Regions from separate parts of the Homo sapiens genome. Here all the other regions are linked to region 1. The links come from fine-mapping of genetic effects on gene expression. A gene starts in region 1. Each other region holds a variant in brackets. All regions are shown on one strand. Distances are between the middles of the regions.

Region 1 (5,038 bases):
GCCAACATGGTGAAACCCCGTTTCTACTAAAAATACAAAAATTAGCTAGGTGTGGTGACGCACACCTGCAATCCCAGCTACTTGGGAGGCTGAGGCACGAGAATCTCTAGAACCTAGGAGACAGACGTTGCAGTGAGCCGAGATCACACCACCGCACTCCAGCCTGGGCAACAGGGCAAGACTGTGTCTCAGAAAAAAAAAAAACAAAAAACTAAAGCATATTCAAATAATCCCAAAGATGGAAGAAAAAGAGAGGAAAAAAAAAAAGCAGAAACCAAATTATAATAAAATGGTAGCCCTAAATCAAACCATATCAATAATTACATTAAATGTAAATGGCCTAAATATACCAATTAAAAGACAGAGATTGTCAGAATGAATAAAAAAAAAGACCCAGCTACATCTATTTATTAAAAACTTACTTTAAATAAAATGGCATAGGTAAGTTAAAAGTAAAAATAAAAGTAAAATGTAGACCTACTCATAACTCCCCCGAACTGGAAATAACACAAATTCTCACAGATGCATGGCTAAAAACTACCATACATCCATGCAATAGAATATTACTTAGCAATTTAAAAAATTATTGGTACACACAACAAAATGGATTAATCTCTAAGGCATTATGCTGGGTAAAAGAAATCAGTTTCAACAGTTACAAACTATATGACTCCATTTACATGGCACTTCGGAAAAGGTAAAACTATAGCAATTAGGAAAGATCAATGGTTGCCGACAGTTGGGGTGGAGGCAGGGCAACATCAGGGAGTTTTTTAGGATGATGGAACTGAGGAAGCCATGGTTGTGGTGATAGTTATATAAATCTATACATATGTTGAAATTTATAGAACTGTACACCAAAAGTCAATTTTACTGTATGTTAATATTTAAAAATGAAGTAAAATAAAAATTACGTGGATGATCTCCATGGACCCTTCCAGACTATGATTCTATCAGTGAGAAAAAGAAAGGAGAGGCAAAAGGAAGACAAGGAGAATGTTAAGTCCTACTGGCATAAAAGCCACTACTCAGAAGAACGGGATTACTGTACAAAAATATACAAAACAAACCCAATCTTCAGAATTTATTCCCAGAAGGGGCTAAGAAAACCGGACATTCGGATCTAAAATATGTATATTTTTAAATGCCTATGAATAGCTTTTCTTGTCTGTTTCTATATTTTTTTACTTTGAAGAAGCTGCCAATTTCTGCTGGCTTAATGCCAATTTCGCTGCTTGGGGTTACTCAATTTACAAGCATCCCTTTATTTATACCCTATACTCTAGGGTCTCCGGCAGTCACAATAACGACTCTGAAAAAGCAGTCGCTTTTGCAGGGTGCCAGAAAGATCAGCGCTCCTCACCCGGAACTAAGGTCCCTGTGGGACACAGTACACCCCGTCCACTAGTTCCAAACTTAAAAGACGCTGGGCGGAAGGTCTTCCCAAGTCAAAAAGCCTCCCAAAGGAGAAGGACCCTGGAGGCCGGGCTTCGGGGCATTTCTGCGTCTCCGGACTGCCCTGTCGCCTCCGGGGCAGCTAGCCGTTTTGAGGACTGTCCTGGTGTGGGGCTGTGGGCTGCAGAAGGTTCTGCCCAGCGACCTTGGGCAAGTCCCTTCCTCTCCTGGAGTAAGAGGAAAATTCTGGGAAGGCTGTGTAAGGGAGCTTCCCATTGCCGCCTCAGAATCCACTTTCTGCCCCCCGCTCTCCAACGCCAAGAAGGAATCACACTTGGCCCTCCAGACTTCACCCCAGCCTTATGCCCGCCACCCTTCCCAGTCCCTGGGAGACCCGCGGGAACTAACACATCCAACCGAGGGCATGGCCCGAAGGCAAGGGGGAGGCAGTAAACACCAAATCCCGGTCTCAGACCCACTCCGCCCCAAGCGGGCCTACCGGGCGCATTCCGACCCGCCCCGCCCTGCGGTCACGGCCCGCCAGGTCCCGCTTCCACCCAAGGGAAGTACAGAGCGCGCCGGGGAGGGTCGGGTGGGGGGCCGGGTCAGGAGGCGCCCACCTTGAGCTGGGACTTGGAGACCTTGCCGCTGTGGTCCTGGTCGAGTGCGGTGAAGGCGTGCCAGATGGCTTTGAGCAGCTCCTCCTTCAAGCTCCCCATGGCCGCGGCCCTGCTGCCCCGCCAACCCCTCCTGCCCAGCCAGCCCCTCCGCGCCTCGGACGCCCCTCAACCTCCGCAGCCACAGCCCGCCGCGCAGTCACCTGACCCGCCAGGCCCCGCCCCCGCCAGGCCCCGCCCTGCTGCCGGCGCCGGTCCAGTGCCGCGCCCACAGCCGCCAGAGTGTGGGTTCTGCGAGTCAAGCCACGCCTGGTGGCAAGAATGCTTGGCCTTCAGTGTCAGCCAGGACGGTAAACACATCTCCCTAATGTTTCCCAGACCAGTTCGGGCCATTTTGGGTGCTCGAGTACAACACCTCACACAAATGACCGCGTCTTGAGGAAAAACCCGAGAGATTAGGTGAGCAGCCTACCCGCCTCCTCCCAGCGCCCCGCAGTGAAAAAGGGATCCCTGGTCCTGTCCTGGGAACGGAGTCACTGTCTGAGAAGGCCAGAGAAGACCCCGAAAAGTCCCCAGACCAGGACTGAAATGATAGCGCAGTCCCAAGTCGGGGAGATGCAGGGCGGCGGGGAGGCAGGAAGGACCTCGAGGGAAGTTTGTTGGTTCATTTCGCAAAAGTTTATTCATGCATACTCTATCTTGGGTTCTAGGGACACAGCGACGACGTTTAAGGGGAGTTTAGAAGTCAGGGTCAGGCAGCATTTTCTTCCTAACGCCTAGCTGTTGTTCAATTCACATCTTAGGAGGGGTTTGACCTGGGTAATACCTCTCTGTAGTGTTTCTCTGCTTGCAGAATAGGAGATCTGGGCCAATTCCAAATCACTCCACCCATTTTACTAATCCAAAGAGATGGACCATTTAAAAGAACGTATTCGGCCAGGCGTGGTGGCTCACGCCTGTAATCCCAGCCCTTTGGGAGGCCAAGGCGGGCGGATCACCTGAGGTCGGGGGTTCGAGACCAGCCTGACCAACATGAAGAAACCCCGTCTCTACTAAAAATACAAAATTAGCCGGGCGTGGTGGCACATGCCTGTAATCTCAGCTACTCGGGAGGCTGAGGCAGGAGAATCGCTTGAACCCGGTAGGCGGAGGTTGCAGTGAACCAAGATCGCGCCATTGCACTCCAGCCTGGGCAACAAGAGTGAAACTCCGTCTCAAAAAAAAAAAAAAAAGTATTCGATTGCAGCTGTTGAATTAATATCTGTTCGCGGTGGTCACAATGGTCACTTGATCTCTTTGGGCTTCAAATTATCCCGTATAAAAAGAGCAGGGTTGCACCAGATGTTCTGGAAGGGTTCTTGCAGTACTAGCATCCTAGGATAATAACTATTGCCGGTTAACTAAGGTCTGATTAAATCGCCAGGCTCAGTACCTCTCCTCTCCAATCCTGGACTAATTGGAGAGAACAATAAACACCAAGAGTTTTTAAAATGAGGTGGTTCTCAGATGAAGTTTGGTTTTGTTTTGCTTTTTTAAGTTCCTTAATGCACATGTTTGCCTTATTAAGAAAGGAAAAGATCTTCATAAGAAAGGGATATTTGGAAAGAGAAGAACAAGAAGGAGCCTCTTCAGTGAGTTTGAGATCAAAAAGGAACTGGTGGGGAAGAGGAGAGGATGGCCCCACTGACGAAAGAAGGGGCAGGAGCAAAAGGGTGGCCAGCCCCTCACTGTGACTGTCCTGAAGGTTCTACCCCATTTCATCACCATTTGTCAGGACTTTTCTTGCCCTACCAGAATCCAATTTCTATCATTTATCTTCCCCATTTCCAGCCCAAGTCTGCCAGTCAGCAAAACCACATGGTTTAACCTCTGATTTATTCATGCGAAGTCAGCTTACCCTGAGTAGCAAAAAAAAAAAAAAAAGAAGAAGAAGAAAAAAGAAACGAAGAAAACCTCCTAATTCTCAAGGTTCAGTTTAACCACTATATGACCCTTCTTCTCTCTCAGTATCTGGAAGTACCAAACATATTTCAAAGCCTTTTTTTTATGACAAGACCAGGACATTGTGGACTTCCAAATTCCTACTTCTCCCATCATCCTCATTCATACAATCCAAACGCATTTTTTTTCTTTTTTTTTCTTTTCTTTTTTTTTTGAGACAGAGTCTCACTCTGTTGCCCAGGCTGGAGTGCAACGGTATGATCTCAGCTCACTGCAACCTCCGCCTCCCGGGTTCAAGCGATTCTCCTGCCTCAACCTCCCAAGTAGCTGGGATTACAGGCGCCAGCCACCACGCCCGGCTAATTTTTTTATTTTTAGTAGAGATGGGGTTTCGCCATGTTGGCCAGGTTGGTCTCAAACTCCCAGCCTCAAGTGAGCTGCCCTCCTTGGCCTCCCAAAGTGCTGGGATTACAGGCGTGAGCCACCATGCCCTTCCTATCCAAACAAATTTTAAAGTAGCATGATGTCATAGAAAGCGCTGTGCTTTTCCTGGGTGCAGTGGCTCCTGCCTGTAATCCCAACACTTTGAGAGACTGGGGTGGGAGGATTGCTTGAGGCCAGGAGTTCAAGACCAGCCTGGGCAATGTAGCAAAACCCCGTCTCCACAAAAAAATTGAAAATAAGAAAGAAAGAAAAGTAAAGAGTTGTGCTTCAGAATCTAACAGATTATATTAATCTAATGCTGTGTAACCAATTAACCCAAAATTTAGCAGCTTAAAACTATAGTAAACATTATTTCATATTTTCTGTAAGTCAGGAATTTAGAAGCCACTTAGCTCTATAGTTCTGGCTTGAAGTGTCTCAGGAGGTTGCAGTAAAATATAGGGCTGTAGTCATTTGAAGGCTAGGCTGATGCTGGAAAATCTATTTCCAAGGTGGTTCACTCACATGGATGGGTCGTTTACAGAAGGCCTCAGTTCCTCTGTATATGGGCCTGTCCTCAGGCTGCTTGAGTATCCTTACAACACGTCAGCTGGCTTTCAATTGATTCAAGAAAGAGAAAGATGGAAGTTGCAATGTCTCTT
Region 2 (5,038 bases), 110 kb after region 1:
AGCCAGGCACGGTGGCACATGTCTATAGTCCCAGCTACTTGGGCGGCTGAGGCATGCGAATTGCTTGGACCTGGGAGGCGGAGGTTGCAGTGAGCCAAGATTGGCCACTGCGCTCCGGCCTGGGTGACTGAGTGAGACTCTGTCTCAAACAAACAAATGAACAAACATACAAACTTCAGGTAAACAACCTAATGGTGTCTCTTAAAGAACTAGAAAAGCAAGCACAAACCAAACCCAAAGTCAGTAGAAGAAAAGAAATAATAAAGACCAGAGCAGAAATAAATGAAATTGAAACAAATAATACAAAGGATGAAAACAAAAAAATCATTTTTTGAAAAGACAAATAAGGCCGGGCGTGATGGCTCACACCTGTAATCCCAGCACTTTGGGAGGCTGAGGTGGGGGGGATCACAAGGTCAGGAGATCGAAACCACGGTGAAACCCCGTCTCTACTAAAAAATACAAAAAATTAGCTGGGCCTGGTGGTGGGCGCCTGTAGTCCCAGCTACTCGGGAGGCTGAGGCAGGAGAATGGCGTGAACCTGGGAGGCGGGGCTTGCAGTGAGCCAAGATCGTGCCACTGCACTCCAGCCTGGGTGACAGAGCGAGACTCCGTCTCAAAAAAAAAAAGAAAGAAAGAAAAGATAAACAAAATGACAAACCTTTAGCCAGACTAAGAAAAAAAGAGAGAAGACCGAAATAAATAAAATGAGAGGTTTTGAAAAGGGAGACGTTACAACTGATACCAAGAAATTCAAAGGATCTTAGGTACTACTATGAGTAAGTATATGCCAACAAATTGGAAAACCTAGAAAAAAATAGATAAATTTCTAGATACATGAAACCTACTGAGTTGAACCATGAAGAAATTCAAAACTTTAACAGACCAATAGTAAGTAACAATTTCAAAGCCAAAATAAAAAGTCTGCTGGCAAAGAATAGCCTGGGGCTCAATAGTTTCACTGATGAATTTTACCAAACATTTAAATAACTAATACCAATCCTACTCAAACTATTCAAAAAAATTGAGGAGGAGGGAATACTTTCAAACTCATTCCATGAGGCCATTATTACCCTGATAGCAAAACCAGACAAAGACACATCAAAAAAAAAAAAAAAAAAGAAAGAAAGAAAAGAAAAAAGAAAGAAAACAACAGGCCAATATCCCTGATGAACATTGATGCAAAAATCCTCAACCAAATACTATTAGGTTGCTGCAAAAGTAATTGCGGTTTCAGACTGTAAATTTTAAATCATTATAACTAGGCTCAAACACATCTTTATTAATCAAAACAGGAAACATTACAATCAACACATTTTTGCCAGTGAGAAATCTTTATTCCTATGGTGTAAAAATCCATGCTTCAGGATTCAACAAACTCTTGGAAATCATTTTCTGCATCCTGCTGGTTGTGGAAGCGTTTTCCGTACAAAAAGTTGTTGAGATGCTTGTAGAAGTGGTAGTCAGTTGGTGAGAGGTCAGGTGAGTATGGCAGATGAGGCAAAACTTCATAGCCCAATTTGCTCAACTTTTGAAGCGTTGGTTGTGTGACGTGTGTTTGGGTGTTGTCCTGGAGAAGAATTGGGCCCTTTCTGTTGACCAATGCTGGCTGCAGTTGTTGCAGTTTTTGGTGCATCTCGTCCGTTTGCTGAGCATAGTTCTCAGATGTAATGGTTTTGCCAGGATTCAGAAAGCTATACTGGATCAGACCAGCAGCAGACCACCAAACAGTGGCCATGACCTTTTTTGGTGCAAGTTTGGCTTTGGGAAGTGCTTCGGAGCTTCTTCTCAGTCCAACCACTAAGCTGGTCGTCACCAGTTGTTGTATAAAATCCACTTTTTGTCACATGTCACAATCCGATCAAGAAATGGTTCACTGTTATTGCATAGAATAAGAGAAAACAACACTTCAAGACAACATTTTTTAAAATTTTTGCTCAGCTCATGAAGCACCCACTTATCAAGACACCTTTTTTTCACCTTTTTTTCCCACCTTTTTCACCTTTTCAATTTGCTTCAAATGCCACATGACCATAGAATGGTCGAGGTGGAGTTCTTTGGCAATTTCTCATGTAGTTGTAAGAGGATCAGCTTTGATGATTGCTGTCAATTGGTCATT[G/A]TCAACTTCTGATGGCTGGCCATACACTCCTCATCTTCAAGGCTCTTGTCTCCTTTGCAAAACTTCTTGAACCACCACTGTACTGTACATTCATTAGCAGTTCCTGGGCCAAATGCCTTATTGATGTTATGAGTTTTCTTGCTGCTTTATGACCCATTTTGAACCCAAATAAGAAAATTGCTCTAATTTGCTTTTTGTCTAACATAATTTCCGTAGTCTAAAATAAACATAAAATAAACAACAAATAATAAGTCATTAGCAAGAAAACATAAAGCGAGAAATGTCCATTAAAATGATGTATGACCTAACCACATTTATTGAAGAATGTATTCCAACATCAAACGGCAAATTCCAACAATGCAAAAACTGCAATAGTTTTGCACTCACCTTAATAGCAAACTGAATTCAACAACACATTAAAAAGATGATTCATCATGACCAAGTGAGATTTATCCCAGGGATGCAAGGACGCAAGGATGCAAGGATGTCATATGCAAATCAATCAATGCAATACATCATATCTACAGAATGAGGGACAAAACTATACTATCATTTCAATTCACACTGAAAAAGCATTTGATAAAATTCAACATCCCTTCATTATAAAAACCCTAAAAAAACCTGGGTGTAGAAGGAACATGTTTTGGCCGGGCGCGGTGGCTCACACCTGAAATCCCAGCACTTTGGGAGGCCAAGGTAGGTGGATCACTTGAGGTCAGGAATTCGAGACCGGCCTGACCAACATGGTGAAACCCCATCTCTACTAAAAATACAAAAAAATTAGCCAAGCATGGTGGCGCACACCTGTGATCCCAGCTACTCAGGAGGCTGAGGCAGGAGAATCACTTGAACCCAGGAGGCGGAGGTTGCAGTGAGCCGAGATTGCACCATTGCACTCCAGCCTCGGTGACAAGAGTGAAACTCTGTCTGGAAAAAAAAAAAAATAAGAACATACTTCAACATAGCCCTACATGACAGACCCACAGCTAGTGTCATACTCAATGGTGAAAAACTGAAAGTCTTTCTTCTAAGATCTAGAGCATGACAAGGATGCCCACTTTCATCACTGTTATGCAACATGGTACTGGAAGTCCCAGCTAGAGCAATCAGACAAGAAAGAGAAAGAAAGGGCATCCAAATTGGAAAGGAAGAAATCAAATTATCCTTGTTTGCAGATGATATGATCTTATATTTAGAAAAACCTAAAGACACCACTAAAAAATTATTAGAACAGATATACAAATTCAGTAAACTTGCAGGAAATAAAACAATATACAAAAGTCAACATGCAAAATCAACATATATCAGTACACACAGCTATTATTGGGTTAAAAAAAAAGAGAACATAACATATAAAAATCATTTCTAGGCCAGGCATGGTGGCTCAAGCCTGTAATCCCAGCACTTTGGGAGGCAGAGGCGGGTGGATCACAAGGTCAGGCGTTCAAGACCAGCCTGGCCAACATGGTGAAACCCTGTGTCTACTAAATATACAAAAATTGTCCAAGCATGGTGGTGCGCACCTATAGTCCCAGCTACTCAGGAGGCCGAGGCAAGAGAATCACTTGAACCTGGGAGGCAGAGATTGCGGTCAGCTGAGATCGCACCACTGCACTCCAGCCTAGGCAACAGAGTAAGACTTCATCCTCCCCCAAAAAAATAAAAAATAAAAAATAAATTAAAATAAATTTTAAAATCGGCCTGTAATCCCAGCACTTTCAGAGGCTGAGGTGGGCAGATCACGAGGTCAGGAGATCAAGACCATCCTGGCCAATGTGGTGAAACCCCCATCTCTACTAAAAGTACAAAAATTAGCTGGGGATGGCGGTGTGTGCCTGTAATCCCAGCTACTTGGGAGGCTGAGGCAGGAAAATTGCTTGAACCCGGGAGGCGGAGGTTACAGTGAGCTGAGATCACGCCACTGCACTCCAGCCTGGTGACAGAGCTAGACTCCGTCTCAAAAAATAACTAACTAAAAATTAAAATTAAAAATTAAAAAATAATAAAAAATGTTTCTATATGCCAACAGTAAACAATGTGAAAAATCATAAAAGTAATCCCATTTACAATAGCTACAAATAAAATAACATACCTAGGAATTAATTTAACCAAAGAAGTGGAAGATTTCTACAATGAAAACTATAAAACATTATTGAAAGAAATTGAAGAGGACATTAAAAAAGGAAAAATAGTCCATGTTCATGGATTGGAAGAATCCATATTGTTAAAATGTCCATACTATCCAAAGTAATCTATGTATTCAATACAATACCTATCAAAATACTAAAGACATTCTCCACAGAAAGAGAAAACACAATCCTAAAATTTATATGGAACTGCAAAAGATCCAAAATAGCCAAAGCTATCCTGAGAAAAAAAACAAAAACAAAAACAAAAAAACTGGAGGAATCACATTACCTGACTTCAAATTATACTACAGAACTGTGGTAACCAAAACAGCATAGTACAGGCATAAAAGCAGACACATGGACTAATGGAACAGAATAGAGAACCCAGAAACAAATCCATACATCTAAGGTGAACTCATTTCTCAACAAAGGGGCCAAGAGCATACAATGGAGAAAAGACAGCGTCTTCAACAAATGGTGCTGAGAAAACTGGATATCCATATGCAGAAGAATGAAACTAGACCCCTGTCTTTCACTATATACAAAACTCAAATCAAAATGGATTAACGACTTAAATCTCAGACCTCAAACTATGAAACTACTAAAGAATATATTGAGGAAACGCTCCAGGACATTAGACTGGGCAAAGGTTTCTTGAATAATGCCCCACAAGCACAGGCAACCAAAGCAAAAATGGACAAATGAGATCACATCAAGTTTAAAAGCTTCTGCACAGCAAAGGAAACAGCAAAGTGAAGAGACAACCCACAGCATAGGAGAAAATATTTGC
Region 3 (5,038 bases), 75 kb before region 1:
TGCCATGAAGGCCCAAAATTGAGAATTTTCATCTGCGAACATGACTATCATAAAGTTCTAAGGGGAAAAAAAATCTAGGTTTCAAATACTTTTAAAATTAGGATTTCAAGTAGTAATTACTGAAGGAATGTTACCAATCCTGAATGACCAAATAGAAACTGCATATTTCTTCCTTATTCCTCAAAACCTGACGGCAACGTTGGCCTGAACAGGCCTCTGCCTGCATACCAATGGCCCTCTCTGGTCTGGAGCGTGTTGAAGATGCCAAGCTCTTATCAGAGGTAATTCTGGGTTTGTGGATTTTCTCGAATAAGACTAAGGGTACCTCATCAAACATACCTACCAGACTGCTCTAAAATAGGCCCTTATTTAGCCCCAGAAGCAAGGGTTTCCCAGCGCCTCAGAATGAAAAGAAACACTCCAGCCGGTCGAGTCTCCACAGTCTTTCTAATCTGGACAGCACCTCGAGCTCAGTCACAGCCAGAGCAGAGACACTTCTCCCTCTCCACCAGAGTGTTAGTCATTCCAAGAAACTGTATTAGCCCAGGCAAAGTACATAAAGGCAAAGTCTGCAAACAAATCTGGCACCTGGCCTGAAGCTTCCGCACTGTCTCTTCATCTTGCCGGGCCTGTCTCTCATCTTCAAGAGCCTCCTGCAGCTTTAGGTACATGTCTTCCAGCTCCCGTACTCGCTGTAAATACTGTTCCAGTTCAGAGGACTTTTGAGCAACCTGTTCTTCCATCTGCTGTCTGATCTGTTGGTATAAAAGGGTCTTGTTTAAATGCAGGTTGACTTCTTTCTCAGGGAAAGCCTCACCTCCACCTGAGGGGTTGCCCACAGCTGCAGCCTCAGCCCATCAGGGTGGCAGGACCCTGTCCTTCAATCCTTGAACTTAAAGATGGAGGAGATGAGGGTACCACACCCAATCGCAATAGTGAAAGAGTCTGGGAAGAGCAAATTATAACCCAAATTATGTTCTGCCCTGCTGTATTTTCCATCCCTTCCACTCCACATTTTAAGACTCAAGTCAAGAAAAAAATGTTTCCTTGTGTAATTTCTCTCTAAATTCCTTTCTGTCTTAAAGTCACAATCTTTTTACCAATAGGGTCTTCTCTAAAAGGAACGAACCTTTTCCCAGTCAGAGCAAACGAACCTTTTCCCAGTCTTCTTTAGTGTTACACTAAAGAAGAAGGAAAGGTCATCCAGCATGGGATTCCTCCCACACTTCCCTGGCTGTCTCCACTCCCTGGGGCACCTCCAGCCCTAGAGGAACTCAAGCATTTCAGTTAATCTGTATACGTTAATGGTTTTTCCCTTCTGGATTACAGAGTTTTGAATCCCTGCCTTAAAAATTACAAGACAAGAACATCCTAAATATAACAAACACATTAGCCTATTTCTCTGCAGTTGATAAAATATTTTCACTTGCATTAGCTCACTCTGTCTTCAGAAGAGTCATGAGAGAGCATGTGATAATCCTGAACTTAAAGAAGAAAAAGCCAATGTTCAGTAAGAAGGACCAGAGAGGAAACAAGACCAGACATTCTGGCTGTTTCTCTACATCACATTTGCCTTCCTCTTTTCTCTGAACCACAAACACATCTCTTTCAACTCTAAATAACAAAAAGTGACTAGAGGAAATGTCACATGCATCTATTTAGGCACTGGGCTTAGCACTCTCTGACAGAGTATCACTCAATGTGAGAAGACCTGTGTTCCAGCTAACCAGCTAACTACCTAAGACAACCTGGATCTTGGGTCTCTTGAAGATGGAAGCCTCTAGGATGAACCGGAGCTGCCAAGAGCAACAAATCAGACTCTAGATGTTCTCACAATTTCAGGATCTCACCCCCGCCATCCTTGCTTATTACAGAGGAGATATACCATGGAACCTATGCTTACTTTTTCCATAACTATTTATTTTCCAAATCAGAACTGTTTTGAGAATGAAAAGGAATGTTATTAATAATTATACCAGAATGGCAGGGACTCTCCCAGGCAAACCAGGAAATATAGTCACCCTAACCAAGCATTTATCACATCATTCCACAAATTTCTTTTTTTTTCTTTTTTGGAGACAGGGCCTTGCTCTGTCACCCAGGCTGGAGTGCAGTGGCAAAATCACAGCTCACAGTAGCCTTGAACTCCTGGGCTCAAGCAATCCTCCCACCTCAGCCTCCTAAGTAGCTGGAACTACAGGCATGTACCAACAGGCCTGGCTAATTCTTTTTTTTTTTTTTTTTTTTGTAGATATTGCCCAGGCTGGTCTTGAACTCCTGGGCTCAAGCAATTCTCATGCCTTGGCCTCCCAAAGTGCTGGGATTACAGGAGTGGGCCACCATGCCTGGCTCCATAAATTTCCACTTAGGAGTCTTGAAAACAAGGTTTATGTCTTTTGCCATTACATCTTTGGCACACTGCCTGGCACATAGAAGGTGTTCAATAAACAGATAATTAATGAATGAACAAACATGCAACTTCCCCTACAGCCCATTCCAGGTCAGTAGCAAAGCCAAGCTGATGACATGCCTCACTGTAGCCTCCAGCCCTTCCCTGTTCCCAC[C/T]GACCCAGGCTGAGCTACTGCAGCTGCTTTCTCCAGCCATGTGATACTCACAAGCTTCTCTCTTTCCAGCTCTGTGCTGAACCTGGCCTGAAGTTCCACTTGAGTCTGAAGGCGTTTCTTTTCCTCTTCTGCTGCACGAGATGCTGCTTCCTCCAGTTTCTAGCCAATCAAAAACCCATCCACAGAAAAGCAGGTGTTAGAGTAGAAGTACATTAAAGAGAGAGAGACAGTCATACTTAAGTACAGGAAAAGCCAAACATTCTTAACATTCAATAAAGATAATAGAATAAAAACTTTTAGCTCCATTAGAATTCCAGTCTAACGATCTGCTGAATCAACATACAAAATAAATTAGGTAAATGAAAGACTATTGATAAGCCTGAACAACATTTTGCAAAGAAAGTTTTAGTACAGTCATTGAATTAAATTCACTTGGGATTGCATTCATGAGATTTTTATTTATTTATTTATTTATTTGAGACTGAGTCTTGCTCTGTCGCCAGGCTGGAGTGCAGTGGCACGATCTCGGCTCACTGCAACCTCCACCTCCCAGGTTCAAGTGATTCTCCTGCCTCAGCCTCCCGAGTAGCCGGGACTACAGGCACACACCACCACATCCAGCTAATTTTTGTATTTTTAGTAGACACGGGGTTTCATCATGTTGGCCAGGATAGTGTCGATCTCTTGACCTCGTGATCCGCCCACCTCAGCCTCCCGAAGTGCTGGGATTACAGGTGTAAGCCACCATGCCCAGCCACATTCATGAGATTTGAGAGCTATTTCTTGAGCTCTTTCTGTACAGTTTTTTCATCTTATACATTATTCATTATAACTTTTACCAGAACCAATTTCTAGAAGGGTGGCATAAGGAGCTCCACAGACCCTTTCCCCAACAAAACAACCATAACTGGTGAAAATTATTGTTAAAAAAACAAAACCTTTAAAAGTCTCTAGAAATTATGCTAAGGACATTCTAAAATGGAGAACATTTATCTAAGAAAATCTAACTCTCAGTAAGAATCGTGAGGGTCTGTGGCATATGATGCACTCCCTCCCCACCCCCACAGTGTCAGTGAGAAGAAAGCTCTTCTCCTGGCAGATGGAACCCCAAACAAGGGTTCCCCTCCCCTCAGCTCAAGCCTAGGGCTATGATACCTTCCTGGGAGGGGCAGGCTGGCTGCCAGAATTTCTCTTTGTCCCCAGCTGCATGTTGCAGAAACTTTATTCCAGGCAAGAGTGGCTGAGAATTAAGAGGAGGCCAGAAGCTCCATGAGAACAACACACTAACACACGGACCAGCTAAAAGTGTTGTTGGTTTGTTGGTTGACTGCTATGAGGTCTCGCTATGTTGCCCAGGCTGGTCTCAAATTCCTGGCCTCAAGTGATCCTCCCACCCTGTCCTCCCAAAGTGATTAACAGGTGTGAGCCACTGCTCTTCCAGACCAGCCAAACGTCTGACAGACAGAACCAGAGAAAGAGACAGCTAAGAAGAGTTCTCATGTAGTAGGAACAAGTCTCAAAGACTGACCTTAAAGACTACATGTAGGCCTGAATTTAAATGATCTCAGACTGTGAGGCAATTCAGGTTCCAGGGCATTATGGAGAACAACAGAACAAAATTAGTGAACTCTAACAGCTGTTGGTGTGGTACCAACAGAGGTGGAAAGCTTAAATGAGAGATCAGAGAAAGACACTCAAAGAGAGCCCTGCAAAAATCAGGGTCTTCGCAGGGTGACTGTGTTCCTGTCCAAGCCTGTGCCTCTGAGGAGCAACAGTCAGAAGCTTCACACTGTGAGGAAAACAAACTTCACTGAAATAGTCCAGCCAAGTCACTAAACAAATAAAGGAGCAAACAACAGCAGGCCTCTGGGGAGAGGGGTGGAATCAGAATCCAGAGTTGCTACCACACATTATCTAAAATGTCTAGTTTTCTACAAGAAATTATGAGACATGCAAAGAAAAAGGAAAGTATGGCCCATATACAGGGAAAAAGCAGGCAACGGAAACTGCCTTTGAAGAGGCCCAGATGGTGGATTTAGCATATGAAGACTTCAAAGCAGTTATAAATATTTTATGCTCAAATAACTAAAGGAAACCATACTTAGAGAAGTAATGGAAGGAATGACAATATACCATAAAATAGAGAATAATAAAGAGATATAAATCACAGAAAAAACCAAATGGAAATTCTGGAAGTAAAAAGTCCCATAACTGAAACGAAAAATTCACTAGAGGGACTCAACAGTATATTTGGGCTACAAGAAAAATCTACTAAAGACAGATCTATAGAAATTATGCAACTGGAAAACAGAAAATAAAAAAGAAGAAAAATGAACACAGCCTTAGAGAAATGTGGGACACCATTATGTGCACCAACATTTGCATAACGAAAGTATCAGAAGAGGGAAAAAAAAGTAGAAAAAATATTTGTGGCTGAAAACTTATCCAGCTTAAGGCAAAACATTAATCTACAT
Region 4 (5,038 bases), 28 kb after region 1:
TTTGACTAGAACTGATCACCAATTCCTTTCATTAAACTCAAAACTTCCTGGACGCTTAGGCCTCCTGGACCAGGAGGGAGCCCCAAACCTGCCCTGCAGGTCAGCGCCTTCGGGAAGTTACTTCATTCAGTCTGCACTTTCCTGAAGCCCACACCATTTAACGAGGGCAGTAAGAGCAAAATAAACCAGAAATTTAATAAATAAACAGAAAATAAACAAACCAAGACTTTTCTTTCTCTGGATGGCCTTAGGTTGGCCAGGTGAACAAATCAATGCAAGGACACATCTTCCTGAAATTATTTATCTCACCCCACCCACTATGAAAAAGGCCAGAGCTTATTTAGCTATGATTCCAGGGAAAGGTTCAAGTTCTTGAAAGCCTTTTGAGATTTTGGCCTAGGGATTAACAGAACTCTGGGCGCAATGCTTTGGATTTCAGACTAATCAAGTTATTCCACAATCATCTATTGGGTACCTTATATTTTCTGGGTGCTGAGTTGAAATGGTGGAATCCTCTAGAGATTACTAGAACACAGACCGTGCTCTCCAGCTGCTCAGGGTGGAGTAGGGAAGATTAAACTATGAAGTGGGTAACTCTGGCTAGAAGGAAAAAAGTGCTAAGTGCCACAGAGAAACATAACCAAATAATAATAATCATTTATGTTTGAACAGGACTTCTTTTTTGTTTTTTTGAGATAGGGTCTCTCTCTGTCACCATGCTGGAGTGCAATGGCACCACCATAGCTCACTACAACCTCGAACTCCTGGGCTCAAGCAATCCTCCCACCTCAGCCTCCTGAGTAGCTAGGACTATAGGCACATGTCACCACACCTGGCTAATTTGGTTTTTGTTTTGTTTTGTTTTTTGGTAGAGACAGGGTCTTGACACGTTGCCCAGGCTGGTCTCGAACTCCTGGCCTCAAGCAATCTCCCTGCCTTGACCTCCCAAAGTGCTGGTATAACCACGCCTAGCCTGATCAGGACTTTCGAAGTCAGTTTCCTCATATTGTCTCACTTGATCCCCAGCACAACTATGGTGGAGCTCTGCAGTTATTCTCATCTAGCATCCTTTCACCATGCTGGAAATGCACCCTAACTTCTCATTGCAGAAACTCCACCCACCCACACTCATCCCATGTGTTGCTGCCAGGGATGCACCCCAGGGTCTGAGGTAGAACAAGTCCCCTGGGCCCTAGGCAATCCAAGCATCAAATTCTCCTGGCCATAGTGACCACCTCAGGGATGGGCACATGACCCAATGAGAGTCCGTGATAACTTTGTTGTGACTTGAGAAAGATGTTCTCAAGCTAGTCAGCTGGACTTGAAGCAGAAAGATTGGGTTCTAAGAGTGCTGCCAGCCATCAGGCTACTCTTTGAACCTGGGCATAAAGGTGACAGAGCAAAAGGCAGCTCTTAGAGAAGATAGTCAGACTCCTGCTGATAGCATTTGAGCTTTGAGTCCACCCCATGCCTGAAGCCATCTCTACCCCTGGACTTTTCACCTATATAAACCAATCTATGCCCTCTTCAGGATGGATTTTCCTTCACTCAAAACCAAAATGGTCATAAAAGTGACTTTAATTCTGTGAGGGAAATATTTCCATCTGTTTTAGATAATAACTGAAGCTGAGATAGGTAAAAAGAGGCAGCTAAGGAGTAACAGAGCCAGGTCCTGAGCCCCTAAGTCCTGATATCAATTCACAGCTTGAGTCCTTTACACTGCAGTGGACTTCTTCAATCGCAGAAATACAGAGGAAGCACACAAAACTTTAAGCTGAGAAGATTAGTCAGGCTTCATAGCAGCACCCATTGAGCTGGACTTTGAAAGACGTGTTGGATTTGGCCTGCAGTAATGCCAAAAGTGTATGGTTAGTTACTTGGGAGGCTGTGGCAGGAGGATTGTGTGAGCCCAGGAGTTTGAGGCTGCAGTGAGTTAGGATCATGCCACTGCACTCCTGACTGGGTGACAGAACGAGACCCAGTCACCTGGGGAAAAAAAAGTACCTGGGTAAAGAGCGCATCATACGCAAAGACATAGGGCCAGGTGTGGTGGCTCACGCCTGTAATCCCAGCACTTTGGGAGGCCGAGGCAGGCGAAACACGAGGTCAGGAGTCCGAGACCAGCCTGGCAAACGTGGTGAAACCCCGTCTCTACTAAAAAAAATACAAAAAATTAGCCAGGCGTGGTGGCACGCGCCTACAGTCCCAGCTACTTGGGAGGCTGAGGCAGAAGAATCACTTGAACTCTGGAGGCGGAGGTTGCAGTGAGCCGAGATCGCCCCACTGCACTCCAGCCTGGGCAACAGCGAGACTCCATCTCAAAACAAACAAACAGAAAAGAGCACATTATATGCAAGGACATGGATATGAGAAAGCTCAGAGGTACACAGAAAATAACAAGCAC[C/G]TTTGGTTTCTCTAAAGCATTGGGTAGATAAGAGAGGAAAGTAGGAAACTGAGTTAGAAACATACTTGGGGCAGAAAGTTTGGAGGACTTGAACTTTATCCTGAAGGCCAGAAATTCTCAGACCCCACTGTATTAAAGATTGGCTGCAAGTGACTGATACTCAATTTTGGCTAGCTTAGTTGCCCTATATCTTGGGGATGAGGCTATTGACCCAGTAAAGAGAATTCGAAAGAACCCACTCAGGAAAAAAAGTCAAATTCTTGGCTTTTAGTTCCAAAATAGTGTCTTCTTTTCTTTTTCTTTTCTTTTTTTAACACAGGGTCTTGCTCTGTCACCCAGGCTAGAGTACAGTGACATGATTACAGCTCACTACAGCGTCTACCTCCAGGGCTCAAGCGATCTTCCCACCTCAGCCTCCTGAGTAGCTGGGACTGCAGGTATATGCCACCACATCCAACTTTTGTATTTTATTGGTAGAGACAGGGTTTTGCCATGTTGCCCAGGCTAGCCTTGAACTCCTGGGCTCAAGCAATCTACCCGCCTTGGCCTCCCAAAGTGCTGGGATTACAGACATGAGCTACCACTCCCAGCCCAAAATAGTGTCTCAAAATCAGACAAGCTGACTGAACTGAGGCAGGAATCATCTCTCACACAAATAGAAATGCTGAGTAATTTTTAGAGACATATATGATAGCCAAACTAAGAAAAAAAGAGAGAAGGCCCAGGTGCAGTGGCTCGTGCCTGTAAGCCCAACACTTTGGGAAGCTAAGGTGCGCGGATTACTTGAGCCAGGAGTTCGAGACCAGCCTGGGCAAAATGGTGAAACCTCGTCTCTACAAAAAAATAAAAAATTAGCTGGGAGTCGTGGCACATACCTGTAATCCCAGCTAACCAGAGGCTGATGTAGGAGAATTGATTGGGCCCAGGAGACTGAGGCTGCAGTGAGCCGAGATTGCACCACTGCACTCCAGCTGGGCAACCAAGCGAGACACTATCTCAAAATAAAACAGAGAAAGGGAGAGAGAGAAGATCCAAATAAATAGAATCAGCAATGAAAAAGGAGACATTACAATTGATACTGCAGAAATTCGGAGGATCATTGGTGGCTACTATGAACAACTATATGCCAGTAAATTGGAAAATCTAGAAGAAATGGAAAAATTCCTAGACACATACAACCTACCAAGATTAAACCAGGAAGAAATCCAAACCCTGAACAGAACAATAACGAGTAACAAGATCAAAGCAGTAATGAAAAATCTTCCAGTAAAAGACAGCCTGGGACCCAATGGCATCACTGCTGAATTCTACCAAACATTTAAAGAAATAATACCAATCCTACTCAAACTATTCCGAAAAAATAGAGGAGAAGAGAATACTGTCAAACTCATTCTACAATGCCAGTATCACCCTGATACCAAAGCCAGACAAAGGCACATTAAAAAAAGAAAATTACAGGCCAATATCTCTGATGAATATTAATGCAAAAATCCTCAACAAAATCATAGCAAACTGAATTCAGCAATAGATTAGAAAGATCATTCATCATGACCAAGTGGGATTTATCCATGGGATGCAAAGATGGTTCAACATGTGCAAATCAATCAATGTGATACATCATATCAACAGAATGAAGGATTAGAACCATATGATCATTTCAAGCAATACTGAAAAAACATTTGATAAAATTCAACATCCCTTCACGATAAAATCCCTAAAGATATATCTGAGATTGAAAGTAAGAAAGAGACATTCCCAGGTGCCACAAATCAAAAGGGAACCCAAAGCTACCACAGTAAAGAGAATCTGAAGCTAAGACAGAATAGGTCTTGGCATGGCAGCAGGAAATGAGGCCTTGAGCCCTGACGAGATCTGAAGTTGGAATAAAGATTTTATTTGCTCCCCACAGGAGAAAAGAAAAACTCTACTTACCAATTTGGGGAAGGAACAAGAAAGCTTGCCATTGGCCTAGACCACAGGGAGGAAAAGAATCAGCTATGAAAAACAGGAACCTCAAGTCTGTTTCTACACCAATGGGACATGAACCCACATAATCTAGCAGGTGCAGGCCATAGATACTGAGCAAAATACGAATAAAGTCATGTCCAGCCAGTGTGATAGCTTTGGAAAACATCAAATATAAGAACCTAATATCATAAAAATAACCAGTAGAAAAAGACAGACTACTTACAGAAGAATAACAAACCACTGCAAGCTACTCTTCAACAATAGATGCCCAAAGACAAAGAAATAGCTTTTAAATTACTGATGGAAAATAATTGTCAAACTGAAATTCTACCCAGCTAAACTAGCATTAAAGAAGGAGAGGCAAATACAGATAATTTCCAACATACAAACCACCCAGTTTCTTCCTGAAATAATGATTAAAAATATTTGTCAGCACAAAGAAAATTGAACCCCAAATACCTGAAGTAATAGCACAAATAGGTATTCATACGGATAAGTCTAAGTAAGTATTGGCTTCTTAAAAAAAGAAGACCAACTCAAAGTGGCTGGTTAAAAATAAGATAGATCTGGAAAACCCAAAATAATCAAATAAATAGTTATTATAAATAATAAGAAAAATAGATGAGAAACTTTAATAAAAATAACTACAGGGAAATTATTAGTCTC

The links. PIP is the estimated chance that this variant, and not a neighbour inherited with it, causes the effect.
Region 2: its variant is fine-mapped to the expression of SWAP70 in T cells (TOPMed, PIP 0.98).
Region 3: its variant is fine-mapped to the expression of SWAP70 in whole blood (TOPMed, PIP above 0.99).
Region 4: its variant is fine-mapped to the expression of SWAP70 in whole blood (INTERVAL, PIP above 0.99).

What each region holds. Positions count from the first base shown.
Region 1 is chr11:9,661,256-9,666,293 of GRCh38, reverse strand. SWAP70 (switching B cell complex subunit SWAP70) reads right to left here and starts at 2,217. Exons shown (of 12, transcript NM_015055.4): 1 at 2,016-2,217. The coding sequence starts at 2,114. RefSeq lists enhancers at 1,610-1,729, 2,840-3,039 and a silencer at 1,870-2,369.
Region 2 is chr11:9,553,708-9,558,745 of GRCh38, reverse strand. No RefSeq gene overlaps it. Among named protein-coding and RNA genes, the nearest start is that of WEE1, 17 kb to the left of the region's middle. The variant G/A (reference allele first, on the strand shown) is at 2,120.
Region 3 is chr11:9,735,898-9,740,935 of GRCh38, reverse strand. It overlaps SWAP70 (switching B cell complex subunit SWAP70), which reads right to left. Exons shown (of 12, transcript NM_015055.4): 8 at 2,616-2,723; 9 at 589-755. Among named protein-coding and RNA genes, the nearest start is that of SBF2-AS1, 20 kb to the left of the region's middle. RefSeq lists an enhancer at 361-480. The variant C/T (reference allele first, on the strand shown) is at 2,565.
Region 4 is chr11:9,633,242-9,638,279 of GRCh38, reverse strand. No RefSeq gene overlaps it. Among named protein-coding and RNA genes, the nearest start is that of SWAP70, 28 kb to the left of the region's middle. The variant C/G (reference allele first, on the strand shown) is at 2,405.